Homo sapiens: one gene and its partners. The main gene of each other region encodes a partner of the protein of the gene in region 3 in a complex. Each region holds a gene or a part of one and is shown on either strand. Other genes may lie near its edges. A codon is read from its position in the direction of its gene.

Evidence for each region.
Region 1: THOC6 (region 3) and DDX39B share a complex: the UniProt entries of both Homo sapiens proteins name them as parts of the transcription/export (TREX) complex.
Region 2: THOC6 (region 3) and SARNP share a complex: the UniProt entries of both Homo sapiens proteins name them as parts of the transcription/export (TREX) complex.
Region 4: the proteins of THOC6 (region 3) and THOC7 are in contact, whole or in part, in a cryo-EM structure (PDB 7APK), measured with the Homo sapiens proteins. Residues at the interface, in NP_001334633.1 of Homo sapiens: Asp229, Trp232, His245, Thr252, Gln268, Asp269, Gln284, Leu285, Ser286; in NP_079351.2 of Homo sapiens: Lys110, Arg113, Lys114, Gln117, Glu118, Ala121 (codon at 238), Leu122 (codon at 241), Val125 (codon at 250).
Region 5: THOC6 (region 3) and THOC3 share a complex: the UniProt entries of both Homo sapiens proteins name them as parts of the transcription/export (TREX) complex.
Region 6: THOC6 (region 3) and CHTOP share a complex: the UniProt entries of both Homo sapiens proteins name them as parts of the transcription/export (TREX) complex.

Annotation. Positions count from the first base shown.
Region 1 is NC_000006.12:31,532,004-31,535,503, forward strand, and holds part of DDX39B (spliceosome RNA helicase DDX39B), read right to left. Parts: intron 3,483-3,500; coding exon 3,364-3,482; intron 909-3,363; coding exon 777-908; intron 1-776. UniProt on the Homo sapiens protein: Involved in nuclear export of spliced and unspliced mRNA. Component of the TREX complex which is thought to couple mRNA transcription, processing and nuclear export, and specifically associates with spliced mRNA and not with unspliced pre-mRNA.
Region 2 is NC_000012.12:55,793,725-55,797,224, reverse strand, and holds part of SARNP (SAP domain-containing ribonucleoprotein), read left to right. Parts: intron 1-1,148; coding exon 1,149-1,200; intron 1,201-2,344; coding exon 2,345-2,418; intron 2,419-2,837; coding exon 2,838-2,866; intron 2,867-3,500. UniProt on the Homo sapiens protein: Binds both single-stranded and double-stranded DNA with higher affinity for the single-stranded form. Specifically binds to scaffold/matrix attachment region DNA. Also binds single-stranded RNA. Enhances RNA unwinding activity of DDX39A.
Region 3 is NC_000016.10:3,022,670-3,026,834, forward strand, and holds the start of THOC6 (THO complex subunit 6), read left to right. Parts: upstream 1-1,365; 5' UTR 1,366-1,657; coding exon 1,658-1,696; intron 1,697-3,038; coding exon 3,039-3,154; intron 3,155-3,254; coding exon 3,255-3,319; intron 3,320-3,393; coding exon 3,394-3,497; intron 3,498-3,581; coding exon 3,582-3,619; intron 3,620-3,695; coding exon 3,696-3,744; intron 3,745-3,846; coding exon 3,847-3,918; intron 3,919-4,009; coding exon 4,010-4,112; intron 4,113-4,165. Other genes in the region: HCFC1R1 (host cell factor C1 regulator 1), read right to left, coding at 194-329, 564-692, 805-861, 1,178-1,272. UniProt on the Homo sapiens protein: Component of the THO subcomplex of the TREX complex which is thought to couple mRNA transcription, processing and nuclear export, and which specifically associates with spliced mRNA and not with unspliced pre-mRNA.
Region 4 is NC_000003.12:63,833,370-63,836,587, reverse strand, and holds the end of THOC7 (THO complex subunit 7), read left to right. Parts: intron 1-229; coding exon 230-287; intron 288-1,197; coding exon 1,198-1,264; intron 1,265-1,364; coding exon 1,365-1,434; intron 1,435-2,388; coding exon 2,389-2,456; 3' UTR 2,457-2,718; downstream 2,719-3,218. UniProt on the Homo sapiens protein: Component of the THO subcomplex of the TREX complex which is thought to couple mRNA transcription, processing and nuclear export, and which specifically associates with spliced mRNA and not with unspliced pre-mRNA.
Region 5 is NC_000005.10:175,965,516-175,969,638, reverse strand, and holds the start of THOC3 (THO complex subunit 3), read left to right. Parts: upstream 1-1,323; 5' UTR 1,324-1,430; coding exon 1,431-1,697; intron 1,698-2,371; coding exon 2,372-2,528; intron 2,529-4,123. UniProt on the Homo sapiens protein: Component of the THO subcomplex of the TREX complex which is thought to couple mRNA transcription, processing and nuclear export, and which specifically associates with spliced mRNA and not with unspliced pre-mRNA.
Region 6 is NC_000001.11:153,640,566-153,644,065, reverse strand, and holds part of CHTOP (chromatin target of PRMT1 protein), read right to left. Parts: intron 1,824-3,500; coding exon of another isoform or gene 1,821-1,823; coding exon 1,637-1,820; intron 840-1,636; coding exon 702-839; intron 1-701. UniProt on the Homo sapiens protein: Plays an important role in the ligand-dependent activation of estrogen receptor target genes. May play a role in the silencing of fetal globin genes.

The DNA of each region.
Region 1 (3,500 bases), on a different chromosome or scaffold from region 3:
TACTATTTGTAGAGACGGGCGTCTCCCTATGTTACCCAGGCTGGTCTTGAAGTCCTGGGCTCAAGCAATGCTCCTGCCTCAGCCTCCCAAAGTACTGGGATTATGGGCATGAGCCACTGCCCTGCACCCAGTCAGAAATGCTTCTCTTGAATAAGCAGTTATTAGAGGAATTAAACATTCAAGAACCCTAACATGCCCCCAAACATCGTTTCAAGACTTTTAACAACTTCCTAAAATCCTTCAAGGACTTTTGGAGACAAGATCTCACTCTGTTGCCCAAGCTGGAGCACAGTAGTGCAATCATAGTTCACTGCAGCCTCAATTTCCTGGGCTCAAGCTATCCTCTCACCTCAGCCACCAGAGTATCTGGGACTACAGGCATACACCACCACACCTGGCTAATTTTTTTCTTCTTTGGTAGTGATGAAGTTTCGCCATGTTGCCCCGACTGGTCTCAAACTCCTGGACTCAAGTGATCCACCTCCCTCAGCCTCCCCAAGTGCTGGGATTACACACATAAGCCACCGTGCCTGGCCAAGGATCTTAATTTTTGAAGTTTATTTTCCTTGAGGTTATTGAGGACATACCCGTGCCAGCCATAGAATAGAAAAGCAGCTCCCACCTTACTCATGCTCAGCCCCTAAGATATTTATACCCTCATTATTCTCTCCCACATCACACATGTGATTTCCTCAATAAAAGTGTACTTAATATCCAGGTTTCTGCTACAGCTGGAGTGCTCCAATGCTCATCCCCCTACTGGACGTCTAACTGACCTGGTTGAACTCAAGGACATCCAGAAGGTCAAAGAGCTTCCGGTTCTTCTCGTTGTCCTTCAGTTTCACGTAGTACTGCTGCAACCCATGCAGCGTCAACTTCGTCTCATCATCCACGAAGATCTCCATTGGCTGGGGGGGAGGAAGGGGGTGGGGAACGGGAGGAGGGCAGAGTGGGGGGGTTAAACCTGGGGGGGTGGAGGAAGTTGATCTCCAATACACCCCATGGGGGGATGGGGAGGAAAGAGAAGATTGAAAACCCCACCCCACTCCCAAAAATACCCACATTTTACTGTGGTCTCTCTCACATTACATCTAATTTCCTTCCTATCAGATGAGTTTTAAGACTGCCCAACTAAAAACTATCATGGGAAAGAAACTGCAAATGAAGTCAAGGAGCAGTGAAACCACCCAATGGCACAGATGCCATTACCTCAAATAGAGGTGGGAGAGGAAAGAAAATGGGAGATGATTCTCAAAGGGAGAGCAAGGACCAAACATCTGGGAAATGATGGGAGGCAGTGACTCAAGGTCAGAATAACTCCATCAGAGGTGCTTCTAAGAACATGGGGTGGGGGGAGGACAACTGCTCCATTTGATTCTCCTACTTCAACTAAGAGAATCTCGTGTGCATTAGCAAAGTGGATGTCTTTTAAGATCAGAATGCTGCAATGGACAGTCAAAATGCCACTTAAGGAGAAACAAAAATTACTCAAGATGAGTTACTTGCCGTCAGACCACAACAGGATAGTTTTAGATGAGACTGGTCTCTTGACTAAGAATTAAACCATCTACAGGTTTACAGGAAAGGTATCAGTAAGTGGTGTTAAAATACCAAATTCAGAGCAGCAGATACACTTTTAAGGGACAGGATCTCACCATGTTGCCCAGGCTGGAGTGCAGTGGCTATTCACTGGCACAATCATAGCACACTATAGCCTCAAATTCCTGGGCTCAAGTGATCCTCCTGCTTCAGTCTCCTGAATAGCTGGGACTACAGGCACACACCATTATACCTCACTGCATTCATCTTTAAAATTAAAAAACCCCCTGAAGGGGAGGAAAGTAACAAAGACAGAAATTACCACAACTCCAAAGCCCAACTTTCCTAACACTTTTTATACTATCCTGGGGGAAGATAGTTAATATGAAGACCCAGAGGACAAAATAGGAAAGGATGCGTGTGTCATGGGAAAAAAACCAGAAGCCCAATCCCAGAAGGCAGGTTTTGTTTTTTGTTTTGTTTTGATACAGGGTCTCTCTCTATCACCCAGGCTGGAGTACAGTGGCACAATTACAGCTTACTGCCACCTCCACGTCCCGGGCTCAAGCAAACCCTCCTGCCTCAGCTTCCCAAGTAGCTGGGACTACAGGCATGCGCCACCACGCCCGGTTTTTCTGGTAGAGACAAAGTCTCACTACACTGCCCCAGCTAGTCTCAAATTCCTGGGCTCAAGCAATCCTCCCACCTTGGCCTCCCAAAGTGCTGGGATTAGAGGTGAGCCACCAGGCCCAGCCAAGGCAGGCTTTCTAAAGAGAAGTTCCATGGCCTCCTTCAAATCTCATTCTAGCCCCAAATACAGCTAAAGAGTGATCATCCCACGGGAAGGAACACTGCAGGGAGGGGAAGAACACACTCCACTGCTTATGCAATTGGCCCCACCTAGCCCCAAACCCTAACAACCACCCGATTACATCCACTTTACCTTTCCTATGTCCCTCTCCTCTGAGTATTAAAAAAAACAAAAAAATTTTTTTAAGAAAAAAAATCTACCACCCCATTCAGGACACCCCTCCCCAACACATATTGGGGGAAACGGGGCACGGCACGCGTTGGGTTCAGGAAAAAAACCGGGAACGGAAAAAGAGGCTGGTTTGGTCCTCAGCTTCCTGGTCAGGTTTCCCCGCGGCCTCCGCTGCCGCCATCCACCGCTGGGTGCCGTCTGCATTCCCTCGCCGCGCCACGGTGCTTCTCTGTTGCCGGCTCACATCAACCGAGGTTCCAGATGGGTGCAAGGAGATGTGGGTGGGAAGGAGTAGGGTATCGGGGATTGAGGTGCCAAAGGCCCCCACCCCTGGAGGTGGGGAAGGGGAGGATTCATTTGTGCTGATGCTCTTCTTTTGGACATGCCCTGCCATCTGTCTGTCCCTCTCTTGCTCTCCTGCCACCGGGAAGTAGGAGTTTTGGTGAGCAGAAGGCTCCAGCTGTACGCTCGATGCCACCTTGAGGGTGCGTGGCTGTAGGGTGCATGTAAGAGACGATGGATGGGTGGGTGGTAGGGCAGAAAAATCCTGCCCTCCCCCAAAGGGAGAAGAGGTTCAAAAATGTTGTGATTTATGAAAAAGTCGAACACTACCCGCTCTCACATTAACCCGACCAAGTCTTCCGGAGTTTCCCTGGCACCCGCGCAGGCCCTAACACTAGCTGTCTCTGCTTCTGTATGTCTCTTCAAGGAGTCATTACTCCCAGTTGGGCACAAGCCGCCTTCTTGGCACTTGAATGACAAGGGAGTCTGAGGAAGAGGGCGAGGAAGGGGAGGAGGCAGCGGGCGGGGAGTGGAGGGAGAGAAGGTAGAAGGGTATTTACATCTTGCATGAACTTGCGGCAGACTGGACGGATCTCTTTGCTCAAGGTAGCACTGAACATCATGACCTGCTTCTCGTGGGGGGTCATGCGAAAAATTTCCTGGACATCCCGACGCATGTCTACAAGAACAAGGAAAA
Region 2 (3,500 bases), on a different chromosome or scaffold from region 3:
GAGTAAGTTCTTATTCCAGAATTGCTTCCTCTGAAAATGTCATTAAACCATTACTACCTTTCAGGGCATCAAATGGGAAAAGTGTTCAGGATATTGGAACAAAAGCTGCCCATGTCTCTAAATGAGGGACCTTAATGAGACTGGTTATGACCCACAGTTTTATGGGAGTTGTTTGGTGGAGGGTTAATGCCCTTCCATTTATCGTGGGTACTTCCGAACTTTGTCTCCCGCCCCTGTGGTCCCCCCTCTTTTGTTTCCTCTTAAACCTTTGACCACTAGCTTACCATGTTTTCCTAATTCAAACTCCCCTTAGACTTTTTTCTTCCTACCTTCTTTGGCATTTTTATTTGTTTCACTTTGACTGTTCCAGCTAGAGCTACATTCCCCATGGGAGAAATAAGGGATTTTTAAAAGAAGGAAACCAGACCTTGTAGAGTACTTATTAATTGTTGTGATGAACATTGGGAGGTGGTACTTAAAGGAGGATTGGAGGGTTACTCATTAGTTCAAAAGTAAATTAAAGGCTGGGCTCGGTGGCTGATGCCTGTAATCCCAGTACTTTGGGAGGCCGAGGTGGGTGGATCACTTGAGGCCAGGAGTTCGTGACTAGCCTGGCCAACATGGTGAAACCCTATCTCTACTAAAAATACAAAAATTAGCTCGGCGTGGTGGCAGGTGCCTGTAATTCCAGCTACTCAGGAGGTTGAGGCAGGAGAATCTCTTGAACCCAGGAGGTGGAGGTTGCAGTGAGCTGAGATCGTGCCATTGCACTCCAGCCTGGGCGACAAGAGCAAAACTCCGTCTCAGAAAAATAAAAGTAAATTGAAAAGTTCCTAAAAGCAAATGAGATGGTTTCTGGTGTCCTTTGAGTGTTTCCCTTCAGCCCAGTATATTTAACCAGACTTCTTTCCTTATTTCTTTATTATACTTTAGCTAAAGAAGCTTAGTTTGTTATTTGAACTCTTTCCTCTCAATAGATGACAGTTAAAGGAACCAAAGCTCTAGTGGACTTCATGTTTCTTTGGCTTAGGGGGTGGCAGAGAGATAATAGGGCAGAGAATGGTGACTCAGGTGAATTCTTACACATTTCTGAGGTTGTGGTTTAGAATATCAGTTTTCTCATTTTAAAAAATCTCTTTCTTTTCTAGGGCAGCAGAGAAGAAAGTGGTGAAAATTACATCTGAAATACCACAGACTGAGGTAGGTATTCTGCTCCCTAGTAGAACAGTCTCTACATTTCTCTCTCCCTCTTACCCTTTATTATATCTGCATCATCCTCTAAAATTTATTCACAGGCAGAAAATCAGTATTGGCAGATTTTGGTGTTGATACGTTTCACTGCCAGCTACTCTTTGGAAAATATTTGGCTGGCGTAGGGGTAGTCATTCTTGAAGTTGTAGTCTTTTTATATGTAATATTATGGTCTTAACAGTGACTCTCTTTGAGATGTTTTCAAACCTAGGATTAGATTTAGGAGGATTGTACCTTGAAAATGTATTGGTAGATGTGACTCTTATGTTGCTACTGGCCAGTAGCTGAGATTGAAATTTCTCTGGTTTCTGTGGTGCAGGACTGTGAAACCAGGTTCCATTTGAGATCTTGTGTTCAGTATCATACTTGCAAAGTAGAGAATTATTAAACTCTTTTAGAATGGCATAAAACAATGCTGCCTCATTTCTAACTGAAAGAATACCATTGGTGTTGGAACCAAGCTATTCCTTTGATCACTTTTCAAAGGTCAGCCAAACATAGCTTTTGACTTCTTGGCTTCATGCATAATGTAGGTTTTACTTTATTTCTCCCTTTTGTTTTTGAGGGCATCTAGTAATAGTCTTTTTTTGTTTGCTTTGTGGGAAGGGCCGTTAAGTCCTAGCATGGACACAACCTGATATCTTCTAGGATTGTCAGTATTTTCAGTTTAGACCCTAAGAAATTACTTCTGATGTTTTTAAGATACCTACCTTTGGCTGGGCCAGGTGGCTCACGCTTGTAATCCCAGCAGTTTAGGAGGCTGAGGTGGGCAGTTCACTTGAGGCCAGGAGTTCAATATCAGCCTGGCCATCATGGTGAAATCTCATTTCTACTAAAAGCACAAAAATTAGCTGGGCACAGTGGCACAGTCCTGTAATCCCAGCTACTCAGGAGGCTGAGCCACGAGAATCGCTCGAACCCAGGAGGCTGAGGTTGCAGTGAGCCGAGATCATGCCACTGCACTCCAGGCTGGGGGACAGAGTGAGACTCTTTTTTTTTTTTTTTTTTTTTTTTTTAAAGATACCTACCTCTGACTGACTTTCTTAAACCATAAATTGACTTTTTTTTCTCCCTTTTGTCTATTTTTACTTAGAGAATGCAGAAGAGGGCTGAACGATTCAATGTACCTGTGAGCTTGGAGAGTAAGAAAGCTGCTCGGGCAGCTAGGTGAGTGTCCCCAGCCTTTTGGGCCTCTGATAGGGGTGTTGTAAAGATGAAGATGTGTGATCCTAGCTTTTAGGTATAATTGTTGATTTTAAGTAGAATAGAGGCTTGCTGAAGGATATGAACACTTTTTTGACCCTATTCAGAACATGTCTACTGATTTGGTTATAGTAGCTATAAATTGAGCTTTATTGAGAAGGGTTTTTGTAACAGTTAAAGCCAGGAACTGACTACTACTAATTCTGATAAGGCTTCCTTTTAGCTTAATTTCTGAACCTCTTTCATGGGGTTGTTAGAATTAGCTAATGATTGCAAGGCTTGAGATCACAAGCAAGAAGTGTCATATGTATACTTGACACGGAGACAGACAAACCAGGAGTGTGAACAGCTTCCTAAAATTTAGTTTGTTTTTCCTTCTTCAGGTTTGGGATTTCTTCAGTTCCAACAAAAGGTAAGAGTACAGAGATACTTCTGAGAAAGTTACCTTTTTATTCTTTCTTTTCTGGTATAACAGGTTTTATTTCTCCAAAATAAGGTAAATTTGCTAGCTGTAGAAACTCTTTAAGAGATTGTAACATTCATCTCCTGCTTTAGGTAAAATTATACTTAGGCCTTCCTGGGCAATTAAGAGAGATACTGAATGTTATGAGAGGATAGGAAGTGCCAACATTTGTCTGTCTTTTCTTGAACATCTTCAAAGAAGTTTCTCTAGTACTTTGCTTACTTATTCTGGGGTCTCAACTGCATAAAATTATTGCATACTATCTAGTGTTATACTGGCTATTATAAGTGATAAAAGGGAAAAGAATATCTTCTACCTTAACAGTTTTACTTCTAGGAACGTATAAGGAAATAGTCTTGAATGTGCATAAAGACTTAGCCTCAGGGATTATCACAGCATTATTTATAGTGATCAATAACTGGAAACAACCAACTGTACAACAGAGAATTAGTTATTAAATGTGTGCCATGGTATAGCAGACTACTGTGCTGAAATAATATTGAAAGATATTTATCAGAGATATTAATGAAAAAAGTTACAAAATTATATTAACAGTACGTTCCCATTTTAGTCATGTAAGAGT
Region 3 (4,165 bases):
TGCCTCCCTTCCCATGCTCCCACCCCTCCCATCCCAGAACTCCGTTGGGCTCAGTGTCCTCTGTTGAGGGAAGGTCTTGGTGCCCAGATGCCTACTCTGCAGGAGAGGGAGGAACCTTGTCCCTTTGCGGGAGTCGCTGGTCTCTTCTGTTGTGGGGAAGAAGGAAGGTGGGAGGGGCACTGTCCACCAGCACTCAGAGCTCCATTATGTCCCCAGCTGGGGTTGCAGGGTAGGGGGGACTGGGGGTGTCCCCCAGCCTCAGCAGACGGAGGGCCTCAGGGATGAGGCTGCCAGGATAGCGCCAGAGAAGCAGCTCAGAGCAAGGGCTCCTAGAAGAGGAAATGACTGTCAGGGCATGGAGCTGAGGCTGGCCTAGCTGAGCACCTCCCACCAGGTCCAGGTCCCCAGGGGCTCCTGGGTTCCCAGCACTTTCCAAAGAGCCAAGATGGGAAACAACCCAGAGGTCAGCTAGAGCTAAAAATGGCACGATGAGGCAGGGCCTGAGGTCAGCTGTGAGGACCGCCTGTGATTCTGCAGAAGGCCTGGCCAGTGGAGGAACCTACCTGAGTGGGGGCAGGGCTGGGGAGAAGGTCATGGGGGGGCTGCAGTAGGGGTGGTCATTGTGCAGGCTGAGTTGAGAGAAGTGGGTGGCCATGTTCTCCTCAGACAGAAACTGCTTGCGCAGAGGCTCCCTGGGGAGAGATGGCAGAGAGGCAGGCTGGGATACTGACACAGGAGGCAGCCTGTTGGGGACCAGAGGTGACAGAGATCTTGTTGGGAGTCCCTCCCTGCCCCCAAACTCACTGCTCCTCCTCCAGGCGCCGCTTGGTGCTCATGGGCACAGCTCCTCGGAGAGGGGAGCTGGGAAAAAAAGAGAGCCTGGTGCACCCCACCCTCTTGGCCCCTTCCCAAGGATCTGCCCGCCTAAGCCTGCAGCATCAGCCAGGAGCCCCAAGCCCATTCCTGTCTCAGCTGGTGCCGGTCCCCGCTCTCCTGGACCATCCAGCAGGGTACCTCGGAAGTCTCGACCCTCAGCCGCAGCCCCAGTCCCATCTCAGCTCACGCCTAAGCCCCGCCGATTCGCCCCACCCCGTATTCATCCTGCAGACCAGTCCTGAGCACCCAGCCAAAGCTCCTGCGGCCCTTGGTCAGGCCCACCCTGGTCCCCTACACGCACCTGGCGTCCAGGCCCCAAGTCACCCCCAAGGCGGCCCGCGGGAGGCGCTGGGCCCCTCCCTGGGGGCCTCGCTGCAAGGGCTGCTGCAGGATCATTGGGTTTTGGGGTCCTGCGGGTGGGATCTGGGCGACAGGGGAGGAGTCTCTGAGGGCGTGGCCAAGAGAGGATGGGCGTGGCTTTAGGCGGGCACAGCCGCGAGGTTCTGCGCGGGCGCGGAAGACGGGCGGCGCGTGGCGGAAGGCAGGCTTGCTCCTCGGGGTGGGGGAGGGTATCCGGCTTAAGGGGGCTGCGGTGGACACCACTTCTTAATGTCGGGGGTCTTCGCGGCGCTCACCTCGGCTCCTAGGGTTCGGGACGGTACGCACCAGCCACCTTCGCGCCGAAGGCGGTAGGGCGCCACGGAGAGGAACCGCTCTAGGCACGTAAGGCCTCGTGAGGTTGCGTCGCGCGCGGAGCACTCTGGGACTTGTAGTTCTGGAGATGGAGCGAGCTGTGCCGCTCGCGGTGCCTCTGGGTCAGGTGAGACGGACGTGGTGCGCGTTGCCTTCTGGGGTTTGTAGTTCACGCATGGCTGGGACGGGGCGGGCAGGGAATCGTGCCCTGAGCCCTGTTTTGCCTGGGCTATTTGTGGGACTCAGACTCTGACCAGGGGGGCGGGATAGTAACCCAGAAGTGCTTCAGGGGCTTAACGCAAGTCAGAGAGTAGGAATTATAAATCAGTACGTTTTTCTATGTTGGGGTAGTAGAGGTACTTTTTTTTTTTTTTTAATTTTCTAGTTCTTGCAAAGCACTTTTTTTTTTTTTTTGAGACAGAGTCTCACTCTGTCACCTAGGCTAGAGTGCAGTGGCGCGATCTCAGCTCACTGCAACCTCCGCCTCCCAGGTTCAAGCGATTCTCCTGCCTCAGCCCTCCAAGTAGCTGGGACTATAGGCGTGTGCCACCATGCCCAGCTAATTTTCGTGTTTTTAGTAGAGACAGGGTTTCACCATGTTGACCAGGCTGGTCTCGAACTCCTGACCTCAGGTAATCTGCCTGCCTTGGCTTCTCAAAGTGCTAGGATTACAGGTGTGAGCCACCACGCCCGGCCAAATTTTTTTTTTTTTTTTTTTTTTGAGATGGAATTTCACTCTTGTTGCCCAAGCTGGAGTGCAGTGGCTCCATCTGGGTTCACCGCAACCTCCGCCTCCCAGATTCAAGCAATTCTCCTGCCTCAGCCTCCTGAGTAGCTGAGATTACAGGCATGCGCCACCACTCCCAGCTAATTTTGCATTTTTAGCAGAGACAGGGTTTCTCCATGTTGGTCAGGCTGGTCTTGAACTCCTGACCTCAGGTGGTCCACCTGCCTTGGCCTGCCAAAGTGCTGGGATTACAGGCGTGAGCCACTGCGCCCGGCCCCACATTTTTAAATTTTTTTTGAGACAGAGTCTCACTATGTTGCCCAGGCTGCTCTCAAACTCCTGGCCTCCCAGAGCGCTGGATTACAGGCATGAACCACCACACCCGGCTTAAGCACTGAGTGACAGCCCCATGTAAAGCTCTTGTCTATACACTAGCTCATCTAATTGTGATGGAATCTTCTGTGAGCTCCATTTGTCAGTTGAGGAAGCTGGCAGGAGAGGCCTGGGTGCTTGCTCAGAGGTCCCTGAGGCATCACCTCAACTCTCCCCTTCTTCAGTGTCTTCTTGGAGCCACCCATGGGACTGCATGGGCAGGTGCTGGCTTGGGGCGGGGCCGCCTCAAAAGAAGGCTGAGAAGTCAGGACAGTGGGAGGCCTGGCAGGTTTTGGGGGAAGCAGGGAGGAATCTGTGGATGGGAGGTTTCATACGTCCCAGGCAGGCCTCATCCAGTCTTTCCCTGCAGACAGAGGTGTTCCAGGCCTTGCAGCGGCTCCATATGACCATCTTCTCCCAGAGCGTCTCACCATGTGGGAAGTTTCTGGCGGCTGGCAACAATTACGGGCAGATTGCCATCTTCAGGTACCCTCTGCCGCTGTCCACCCATTAGCCCTGGCACTTGGCCCTCATGGGACGGATGCCCCCGTTTCTGACTCCTGGGTCCCCTCCGCTGTCCCTGCAGCTTGTCCTCTGCTTTGAGCTCAGAAGCCAAAGAGGAAAGTAAGAAGCCGGTGGTGACTTTCCAAGGTGGGTATACCTGTGGAGTCTGGCTTCAGGACTTTGGGTGGGATTGGCTCACTCAGTTCTGCATTTCTCTTTAGCCCATGATGGGCCCGTCTATAGCATGGTTTCCACCGATCGACATCTGCTTAGTGCTGGGGATGGGGAGGTGAAGGCCTGGCTTTGGGCGGAGATGCTCAAGAAGGTAAGGAGTCGAGCTTGGGAAAGGGCTGGGGTGCCTGGACCCAGAGAGAGCCTTTGAGGTCACCTGGTATTTTCTCTTTTGAAGGGCTGTAAGGAGCTGTGGCGTCGTCAGCCTCCATACAGGTGAGCAGGGCCACGTGGATAGAGGGTGCATCAGGGTGAAGCCACTTCCTCACTGACCTTGCCTTTCCTTCCCCAGGACCAGCCTGGAAGTGCCTGAGATCAACGCTTTGCTGCTGGTCCCCAAGGTCTGAGCCCCATGTGACTGTTCTTGGTCCAAACTTTGATCCTTCACCCTCTGCCTATCCTGATTTGACATTGACTTTCTGCCTCATCCTGCTCCTCCACAGGAGAATTCCCTCATCCTGGCTGGGGGAGACTGTCAGTTGCACACTATGGACCTTGAAACTGGGACTTTCACGGTGAGCAGGGTCCTGGAGCCCTAGAGCAGGTCTAGGTCAGGGAGAGGCACTCTTCCTAGGTCTCCTCCTGACATCGCCCCTCTACATGCAGAGGGTCCTCCGGGGCCACACAGACTACATCCACTGCCTGGCACTGCGGGAAAGGAGCCCAGAGGTGCTGTCAGGTGGCGAGGATGGAGCTGTTCGACTTTGGGGTAAGCAGGTGGCTGGTTGGAGGGCAAGATGGCAGTGAAGGAGGCTGAGGCAA
Region 4 (3,218 bases), on a different chromosome or scaffold from region 3:
AAATGGAAAAAAAGTGGGAGCTAAAACCCCTGTTTGGAACACTTTTGATGTTATGTATCGTTATAATTATAACTCAGTTAACTAAAACTGGCAATACTCATCTTTCAGTGATTTCATTTCTTGATGTACTAGGAAAGTGATTAGGAGAGGTTTGTGATATTACACATTTTGTTTTGATAATTCACATTCAAAAAATCCTTAGTTTGATAAATATTTTTATGTCTTACAGAATATGATGCTTTGGCAAAAGTGATTCAGCACCATCCAGACAGGCATGAGACATTAAAGTAAGTGTAGAGCTTTACTTTGAAAGGAACTAACCTTTATACATAAATGCTCGAAAACTACCGTAGGCATTTCATTTTTGCAGAAATAAATATGTTTCAAAAGGAGGGGTCAGATATTCAATATTATATTTTCCCATACTTCTCTGTTAGATTTTATTTTCCTCTAACCTTACCAGCTATATGTCTAAAATAAATGCATATAATATGCATCAATATCACAATGGATAAATAGAATATGGTCTTCATATATTAAAATATTGAATTTCAGTTAAAAAGAATAAACTAGTTATGCCCTTTTAAAACACAGCTCTCAAAACATAATCAGTGAAAAGACACATAATAAACTTTAAATTATATTTAAATTCCTGAAACACATACAGAATAATAACCATTTATAAAAGTTAGAACCCCCTTTCAAATATTATATACCAATACTGTGTATTATTCAGGGATACAAGTATATGCATAAAAAAGAATAAGAATGATATAGTAGTTGCCTGAGTGGGAGGTAGAGGAGATAAAAAGGCCCAGGATAGAGGACTAGGCGTAAGATTCAAAGGGTATTTCGAGTTAATTGGCAATGTTTTATTTCTTTTACCAAAATAAAAAACCCTCGAAGTTAAACTTCACAATATGTATCATTTCTTGGGTCTTGTTATTCTGTTATCTGTATTTTTCTGTACTTTAAAAATGGATCCAAAAATGTAATTTTAATGAAAGTGAGTCCATATTTAGAAGTTAAGAAGAAATCATCCTCAGCTTTAAAAGTTTCACCATAATGGAGTGTTATAACTCCTTATAAGCCCTTTTTTTATTTTAAAAATCCTATCTAGTAACTTAAAAGTTAGGCATTAATTGTAAACTCTTCTCCCCCATTCAGCAAAATGTAACACTGTTTTATTATTTCCAGGGAACTAGAGGCTCTGGGAAAAGAATTAGAGCATCTTTCACACATTAAAGAAAGTGTTGAAGATAAGGTATTCGCATATATATTTAGCCTTCATGATCTGTCTATCTGTCTGTCTATATATCTATATATACAGGTCATTTGTATAAATTTTTTTCTTGTTAACACAGCTGGAATTGAGACGGAAACAGTTTCATGTTCTTCTTAGTACCATCCATGAACTTCAGCAAACATTGGAAAGTAAGTAGAAATAGTCTCAAAGTAAATGCTTATGAAGATTTTTTAAATGACCCAGGGATGTACCTTTTGAAATATACATCTTGGAGAGACAGTATACCTTCAATTTCTGAACAGTGTAGCTGGATGACGTTAGAAGGTACTCATGTTCAACTTTCTTGAATACATGTAGAAAAGTCTTAATTTGTAGTAATATAGGATTTAAACATATACATAGTGGTTTAAATTAAGAAAAATTCAAGGATGATAGATTTGGAATCTTTCTTGGTTCACTGTAGTTGACTACTATAATATAACAACTCAGGACCCAGGCAGGCAATAATAAGAAATCAGTACATACGAACATTTGCATACCCACTGAGTAGTGGGTGCTTTGGGGAACTGGAGACTTGCTCTTTATATTCACTATAGGCAAGTGGAAATTTTTGTGTTACCTGATCTTCTGATTGTTTTAAAGAATAGCCTAAGACCCATTTTTTCTTTTCTTTTTTTTTTTTTTAAGACAGTCTTGCTCTGTCACCCAGGCTGGAGTGCAGTGGCACAATCTTGGCTCACTGCAATCCTCACCTTGCAGGCTCAAGTGATTCTCCTGCCTCAGCCTCCCTAGTAGCTGGAATTACAGGTGCATGCCACCACACCCAGCTAATTTTAGTATTTTTAGTAGAGACGGGGTTTTACCATGTAGGCCAGGCTGGTCTTGAATTCCTGACCTCAGGTGATCCACCTGCCTTGGCCTCCCAAAGTGCTGGGATTATAGGCATGAGCCACCAGACCCTGCCTGGATTTTTTTTTTTTTAAGTGAAGTCTATCACATAAATTTTAAAGTTTGATTCAACTAGTAGCCATCTTAGCTTTAATTGTATTGGCTAATAAAGGATAAACATGTTTTCATGTGTTCATCGAATATAAAATATAGGCAAACTTGACTAAGGTTTTATGTTTCCTTCTCAATTACAGATGATGAAAAACTCTCAGAGGTAGAAGAAGCTCAGGAAGCAAGCATGGAAACAGATCCTAAGCCATAGACAGGCTAATTGCCCACCACTCCCAGGAATATTGAAATAGCTACATGACCATAATGTGTTTAAAATGTGGTATGCTCTTGAGATATTTAAAGTTTTGGCAGTAAAATACTCTGTTTTTAAGTATGAATGTATTTCATTCATATTTCCTCTCACAAAGGAAAATGACTTCAGTATAGATTTGTTTTTATTAAAATGCATTTTTTATTCTTAAGTGGTAGGAAGCAACATCCAAAAATGCTTAATAAAATGCTTTTAAGCTGCATATGTTTGTGCTCATTAATATTCTAGGTAGTTTTTAACTGGTAACATTGATTGGCTTACAAAATAAGTTGAAAATTGTTAGAAGTTGGCATTTCTAGGATGTACATGGGAAAATGAGCCAATTTCTGGAAATGGTTACACTTCTGAAAACGGAGTCTATGAAGAGGCTTTAGGAGGACCATGAACCTGTGAAATTACATGCAAAATGTTAGTGGTGTATGCTTATTGTGGAGAGAGGTTCCAGGCTGTTAAAATTCGCTGGTATGGGACGTTAATTATAAGATGCAAAGTAAAATAGTGCACATTACTTTATATATCTCTCCTTAATATGAGAGGAATATGGTTCTCAAATGTTTTGTTGATCTGTTTTCTCTACTGTTTTGTTCTTTAGGAATCATTTTCAATAGAAAAAGATGTATTGATAAAGTGAAGAGTGTTTGAAGTAAATAGTTTGTTAAGATTGTTTTGCGTAGGCCAGGCATGGTGGCTCACACCTTTAAT
Region 5 (4,123 bases), on a different chromosome or scaffold from region 3:
AGTTTGGGGACACAGGATGGAGGGAAGCTTTTCAATCTATTCCCTTTTATACATTTTACATTTGTTACCAAGTGCACGTGTTGCCTTTTAAAAATTGGGTTTTTAAACACATTTACCACTACTACTCACCACCAAAACCTTCCCCCCTCAGCTCTTCTCCAGGGCCTTGACTGGCGCTGGCAGCTCACCACCCCTTTTTTCTCCAGCAAGAAGCCACTGGTTTAAGGGAGATATGAGAGGTGGGGTGGATACGCAGGTGGACATTTACTTTTCACTCTATATCTTTTATTTTTATATTTACAATCATGTGCATGTAATACTGTTACAGGAAAAGGGTCCCAATCCAGACCCCAGGAGTGGGTTCTTGGATCTCACTCAGGAAAGAATTCAGGGCAAGTCCGCAGTGCAAAGTGAAAGCAAGTTTATTAAGAAAGTAAAGGGAATAAAAGAATGGCCACTCCATAGACAGAGCAGCCCCGAGGGCCGCTGGTTGCGCATTTTTATGGTTTTTCCTGATGATATGCTAAACAAGTGGTGGATTATTCATGCCTCCCTTTTTTAGACCGTATAGGGTAACTTCCTGACATTGCCATGGCATTTACAAACTGTCCTGGCACTGGTGGGAGTGTAGAGGTGAGGATGACCAGAGGTCACTCTCATCGCCATTTTGGTTTTGGTGGGTTTTGGCCGGTTCCTTTACTGCAACCTGTTTTATCATCAAGGTCTTTATGACCTGTATTTTGTGCTGACCTCCTATTTCATCCTGTGATTAGAATGCCTTAACAGTCTGGGAATGCAGCCCAGTAGGTTTAAGCCTCATTTTACCCAGTTCCTATTTAAGATAGAGTTGCTCTGGTTCACACGCCTCTGCCATTACCTTTTAAAAACAAAAAATCCATTTTTATTTAAAAAAAAAAAACAAAACCTCCAGACCCCTTCTTAACACCTCTTCCCTCACTCCACACCCGCTAGCCCTTTTCATGGGACAAGCTCACCAGCTGGTCCTTCTCCAGCAAAAAGACCAGAGCTTTCTGCTCTTAAGGGAGGGGACTAGGGATTACGGAACAACCCCAGAAGAAAGGTGATGAGTTAACTGTTTAGAAGGTTAGTGTTGGTTCTTTTATTCGATTAAACAGGAATACACATATATCTACCAAAGAATAGGTAAGGGAGAAATAAGAACACTAAAAAAACTCGGAATCGTTAAGTGTGAAGCATATTTGGAGTTAAAAGAACCAAATATTACTAAGTAAGCAGACGCGGGCACGCGCTGCATACCGGGATTTGTAGTCCCTTCCGGGGCGGGGTACAGCGCGCCTGCGCAGAGGGGCCGTCGCTCTTCCGGGCGCATGCGTGCGGCAGCGGCGCCAGGACTGACTGCGCCGTGGAGGCTGCTGCAGTGTTGTGAGTTGGAAGCTGGGGAGCTCGGCATGGCGGTCCCCGCTGCAGCCATGGGGCCCTCGGCGTTGGGCCAGAGCGGCCCCGGCTCGATGGCCCCGTGGTGCTCAGTGAGCAGCGGCCCGTCGCGCTACGTGCTTGGGATGCAGGAGCTGTTCCGGGGCCACAGCAAGACGCGCGAGTTCCTGGCGCACAGCGCCAAGGTGCACTCGGTGGCCTGGAGTTGCGACGGGCGTCGCCTAGCCTCGGGGTCCTTCGACAAGACGGCCAGCGTCTTCTTGCTGGAGAAGGACCGGTTGGTGAGCTGCCGGGGCTCGGCTCAGGCTAGGGAGAGGGGCCGTGGTGAAGTGAGGTGCGGTAGTGGGAGAGCGAATGGGGGCGAACGGAGCCGCGGGGGTGAAAGGAGAGTGGGTTTGAGGGAAGGGGAAAGGGGGAGTGTGGAGATGAGGAGGGAGTAGGGAGAAGGTGGAGTGTGGGGGTGACGGGGTCGTGAGGGGTGAGGAGAGGAAGACTGGGGGCGTGTGAAGAGTGTGGAAGTAAGGAGGTTGGCGATGGCGGGTGAAGGTGAGGAGAGGGTGGATGGGACAGGGCTGCGATGGGAGCCTTACTGGTTTGGAGTCGAATCCTGTGCTGATAAGAAGTGGCTAGGGGCTGTGGTGGTGGTGGTGGTGGTGGTGGTGGTACGTTGGTGGTGGTACGTTGGTGGTACGTTGGTGGTAGAGTAAGGGTGGAAAACCAGGAAGGAGGAGAAGGCCAGGGAGGGCACAAAAGTAAGGGCATAGGTGTGGAAGCTGAGAAAAACAGTTCAGAAGGCCTGCGGAGAAGAGAAGGGAGAAAGGGCTTGGAGGAACTGGATTCTGAATTACCCAGATCTTTACTGGTCCCAGCATACTTTGGTTTGAATAAGCTTATAAAGTTACATGCGGAGGCAGTTACATCTATGTGAAGTCACATCTGGATTCTGTTCTTTCAGGTCAAAGAAAACAATTATCGGGGACATGGGGATAGTGTGGACCAGCTTTGTTGGCATCCAAGTAATCCTGACCTATTTGTTACGGCGTCCGGAGATAAAACCATTCGCATCTGGGATGTGAGGACTACAAAATGCATTGCCACTGTGAACACTAAAGGTGACTATTCAGAGAGAGGGCAATAGGAAGATAAGCTGTTTGGATTCATTCAACAACCATTTTCCGAATATCTTTTCTGTGCTTGGCACTCAGCTGTGTATGAGACATCCTGAGCTGAATAAGAGTTTCCAGCTCCAAGGACCTCCCCTGCGGGGAGAAGACATATATATACAAATAACATAGCAAGATATGGTTCATTTTATAATGGAGAGGTCTGCAAGGTGGATACCCAGAATAGAAATGAAAACAAAAGTCTGCCTAGGGGAGCCAGGGAAGGCCTCACCAAATTTGAGCAAACTTTTAGGGTAGCCATAGGAGTTGAGTGGTCAGGGTGCTGTGGGTGGGGAATGGGACATTTCCAGGAGGGAACGGCATGTGCAAAGGCATGGAGAATTTGGAAAATTCTGATGAGTTAGAATGGTTGAAACTTGGATGGTCTTGGTGATCTGGGAGAAAGTTGTGCAGTACATTTATAGGCTCTGTTGTAAGTATTGAGGCCGATATTGTATGGGACTCTGAGTTTTCATTGATCGTAAGATGTTCCATTAGGAAAGAAAGTTGGTAAATAACTGTGATACACCCAAAATTTTGAAATGCTTTCTGATACATTTTAAGATACAGTGTAGATACTAAAATGTGAGAAAATATGCGTTTTAGAATGGAAAAAGTTGGTGAGATTTTTAATTGATGTGTTCAGTGTGGGCCACTGGACTTTGTTGACAAGACTTATCTCTGGAGGCGGAATGGTGTGGTTTTTCCCCAAGTATACAGCTGCTGATCCATGAGTGATTCAGGTGATGCGTGGGTGAACATTAAAAACCAGTTTTGCAAATATCTTAATGTCTACTAGAAGAACTAGCACATAGAATTTATTATTCAGTTGAAGCTAAATTTATTTTATTTTTATTTATTTTATTTTATTTTTATTTTTGAGACAGGGTCTTGCCCTGTTACCCAGGATGGAGTACAGTGGCACAATATTGGCTCCCTGCAGCCTCCACCTGGGCTCAAGCCATCCTCTCACCTCAACCTCCTGAGTAGCTGGGACTACAGGCACATGCCACCATGCCTGGCTAATTTTTTGTAGAGACGGGTTTTGCCATATTGCCCAGGCTGATCTTGAACTCCTGGACTCAAGTGATCTGCCTACCTTGGCCTCCCAAAGTGCTGGAATTACAGGCTTGAGCCTCCACAGCTGGCTGCTAAATTTATTTAAGTAAACTTTTTTGAATCAATTTTAAGAAAAATCTTGAATAAAGAAAAGTATAGTGTTTAATGGATAGGACAAAAATTGTGATGTTGGCATGCGAATGGCTGGAGTTGAGAAATGCTGGTGTAAGAGAAAAGGGGGCTTTGGGGTCAAATCTGGGTTTAAAATCTTGGCTTGGCCGGGCACGGTGGCTCACGCCTGTAATCCCAGCACTTTGGGAGGCCGAGGCGGGCGGATCACGAGGTCAGGAGATCGAGACCATCCTGGCTAACACGGTGAAACCCCGTCTCTACTAAAAATACAAAAAAATTAGCCTGGTGTGGTGGCAGGCGCCTGTAGTCCCAGCTACTCGGGAGGCTGAGGCGAGAGAATGGCGTGAACCCAG
Region 6 (3,500 bases), on a different chromosome or scaffold from region 3:
CTAAGCTCTAAACCAGAAGGCTCCCATGAGATTTAGTATTAACAGCAGCAACATCATTAAACTCTTTCCCAATCTGGGTCATGAGGTCACAAGACAAACATCAATAAATTTCAAAGGCAAGATTATCAATAAGAGCCAGTTAGTTAACTGATAATAATTCCATCTTGCTCTCTACCTTAAGCAAAAAAAGTCATCTCTGGTTCTCCACAGGCACCAAATGTGACATTGAATTTATTTGGTTTCAGAGCCAATGCCCAGCTCCAAGTCTCACCACCCTCTTAACTCTACTTCATCTTTGTATCTCTCTCTCTCTTCTATATTCTCATGTGACTCAAACCAGGATTTGGAGCTACAGGGTGGTATGTGGTGGTGATGGTGGTGGGACAGGGGCAGAGAAAGGCAAAACCCTAAACTGACCATTTTGGGGGGTATTTTCAACTATACAATTTAAATTTGCAAGAGCTTGGAGGAAGATGGCATATAATCTGGCTCTATAATATGCACTTGATTGATTCTTGGAAAAATCATGAGACTTTTGCACTACCAGCATGGTAATTTGAAAAATAAGCCAGTTTCAAATAACAAAACAAGACAAACAAAGAAGCCTGCCTATGACTTGAAGCTGTGCAGAAAGGTGGCTCTGAGTTTTTAAGGGAGGAAAGTAAGGGGGAGCTACTCTCTGAAGTTGGTAGCTGACTAACCTCTACCACCGATTCCGCCACGACCCATAGCTCCACGCCCTAGGCCCCCTCTCCCAGGACCTCCACGACCTCGAACACCACCTCTTCTTAAGCCCATTCGGGGAGCTACGGCTCGTCCACCTCGGAGCAGGTTTTGACCTTAGAGAGGAGGCATACAATGTATATGCAGGTAAATCCAAGAGACACAAAGTAGATTCTAACCAAAGGAAGGCGGTGAGGGTTAAATGAAGGTAATTCAGTTAGTTTTTAGGTTGGCTGGGGCAAGCTGCATACTGTGAACAGATTAAGCTACTCTTTATTCAATCAATTCAACAAGTCTGACCACAAATCCATTTTTGGAAGTTGGGAGTTAATTCAATTAGTAAGTACATACATTTAATAAATATCTACTGAATAATCAGATAGATGCCTAGCATTATGGTAAATTTAAAAATAAATGCTATGGTTCCTGATCTCAACAGATTCTTCTAGGGAACAAGAACTATACAGGGAACAGAGTAATAGTGCCCCAAATGAACATATATAGGTAAGTGCTGTGGGTCAACTTGTCCTCTTTTTCCAGCTGTATCAGTGTTTTACTAGCACCAGGAACAAAGAGATATAGGCCAAAAGACCTATAAATTTCTTATGTTTGACTTGTTTCTAGAACTTGAATGTGCTTTGATTCAAGCAACAGCAGGGTGTTTTAAAATGGAATGGAGATGACATGAATTACCTGTTGTTACGCAGGTCATAGCCTCTCACCATTGCACATTATCAGAAAAGGAATGGTATTGATAAAAGACATGCAGCACTATTAAAAATATGTGATTTCAGAAGTTATTATATTAATACAAATTCAGGCTTAAAGATGTTAAACAAACGTGTCCATAAGCAGCCCAAGAGAAAAGGGAAGGGAGTAGGGCCCGACAATTATCAGGGTACACAGCACTGACCTCGGAGTGACATCCCGCCCCTAAGTAGGGTTCTGGTGGCACGTCCCCCACGTAGTCCTCCTCTGGGCAAGCCTCTCTGGATTATGGGTAGGCCTCGTCCTCCGATTGCTCCCCTGGCCAGGGCCCCTATGGGTCGGCCTAACCGTGCCTGGATGTTACTCTTACCCAGGCGCTGCTTTAAGCTCTTCTGGAAGAAAAGGTGTTAGGGGATTGAGATCAAAAAAGCAATCCAACAGGATTTGGCAACTCAAAGTGCAGAGAAAAAGAAGCAAGTGAGATGCTGGTGTGAAGGGAGATAAACCTGTTGTGGGTGTCAAAAGGATCCCAAACCAGAAGCAAGCCTTTGCCTCAGAACATGTTATACAAGCAGCAGAATTTTGATCCAGAGCAGAAACTCCAAGAAGCTCAAGTGTGGTCCCATGAAATGGGCATCTCCACAAATTACCTCACTAGTTTGGCTACAGAAGTCATACACTGCCAGTTGAAACTTAAGTTTTCGTAAGAACATTCTATAGTTCAATCCTGGATTGTACTGCTTTTGAACTACAGGTTGACAATTATATGACTTGATTCATACCTGCCCATGGACTACCACTGTCTTCAAAGGCTTACTCAAACACCATAGGAAGTTCATCACACTCTGGGCAAAACTTAAATTACAAGTTCACTTGAGTTCTTGTGACTTAAGAACAAGATTGATTTCTCAAAAAGGCCCGTGTGCTCCATTTTTCCTCTGAGAATCTATTTCCAGACGGTCCACTTTTTACCTTAAGATGTAAATAAACACAAGAAAGTCAAATCTCCTTTCCTTACATTTCTTAAAAATCCCTAATTCCATGCCTGCACTTGCAAACAGCTCCTTTAAAACAATGATGACCTTAAATTAAAAATAAACATGTAACTCAAATGTATCTCCACAGTCAGCCAGCCAAACGTATGTTAGAATTATTCAGGTGATCACAAAACTCAGGGCCATATATAAGAACAAGGACACACTACAGAGATAGGGTATTTTTAAGAATCTGTTCTCAAAAGAAAACCATTAAGACTACATCTCAGAGAATTAAATTCCTTCAAAGGAAAAAGGGACAGCAATAGCCCTGAACACAACCAAGCTCCTAGTAAGCCTGGCTGTCCATAAAGCCATCAGTCAATCTGAAAGAAAATAAATTGTATAGCCCCTTCAGGCTTCACCCACAAGTGACTACCAACGTGTATGTGTGTGTTTTCTAATCAACCTCTCAAAAAGATGCTGTGAAGCATTATTAACTTTCTAGCACAAGATCATAAATTGCTTCTCATCAGTGGGGAAGGCTCCAAACATTATGCATCTAGCATAAGTAGGTGTAACCAACCGTAACGGCCTGTCCTGTTACTCCCGATTAACACACAATTATCAGGTTAGAACTGCATTCCACAAGTCTCTTGCGTTCAGTTATCCTGCATATATTAATTCTCCCAAGCTTTGTGCTTTAAAAGAACTGTACAGTGCTGGGAAGTTCTTTACCCATTCCAATCCTTAAGTGCCACCAATACCGGCCTTTAATATTAACAGGGAAGTTAAGGATGTCAACTATACCACTTAGTTTCCCTTCTAGAGGTGTGCTGTGTAAGGCAGCCTCTATAGCTACATGTGGCTATTTCAATTATTTTTATTTTGAGATACAGTCTCGCTCTGTTGCCCAGGCTGAAGTGCAGTGACACGATCTTGGCTCACTGCAACCTTCGTCTCCCAGGTTCAAACAATTCTCCTGCCTCAGCCTCCCGAGTAGCTGGGATTACAGGAGCTGTCATCACGCCTGGCTTATTTTTGGTGGAGACGGGGTCTTGTCATGTTGGCCAGGCTGGTCTTGAACTCCTGACC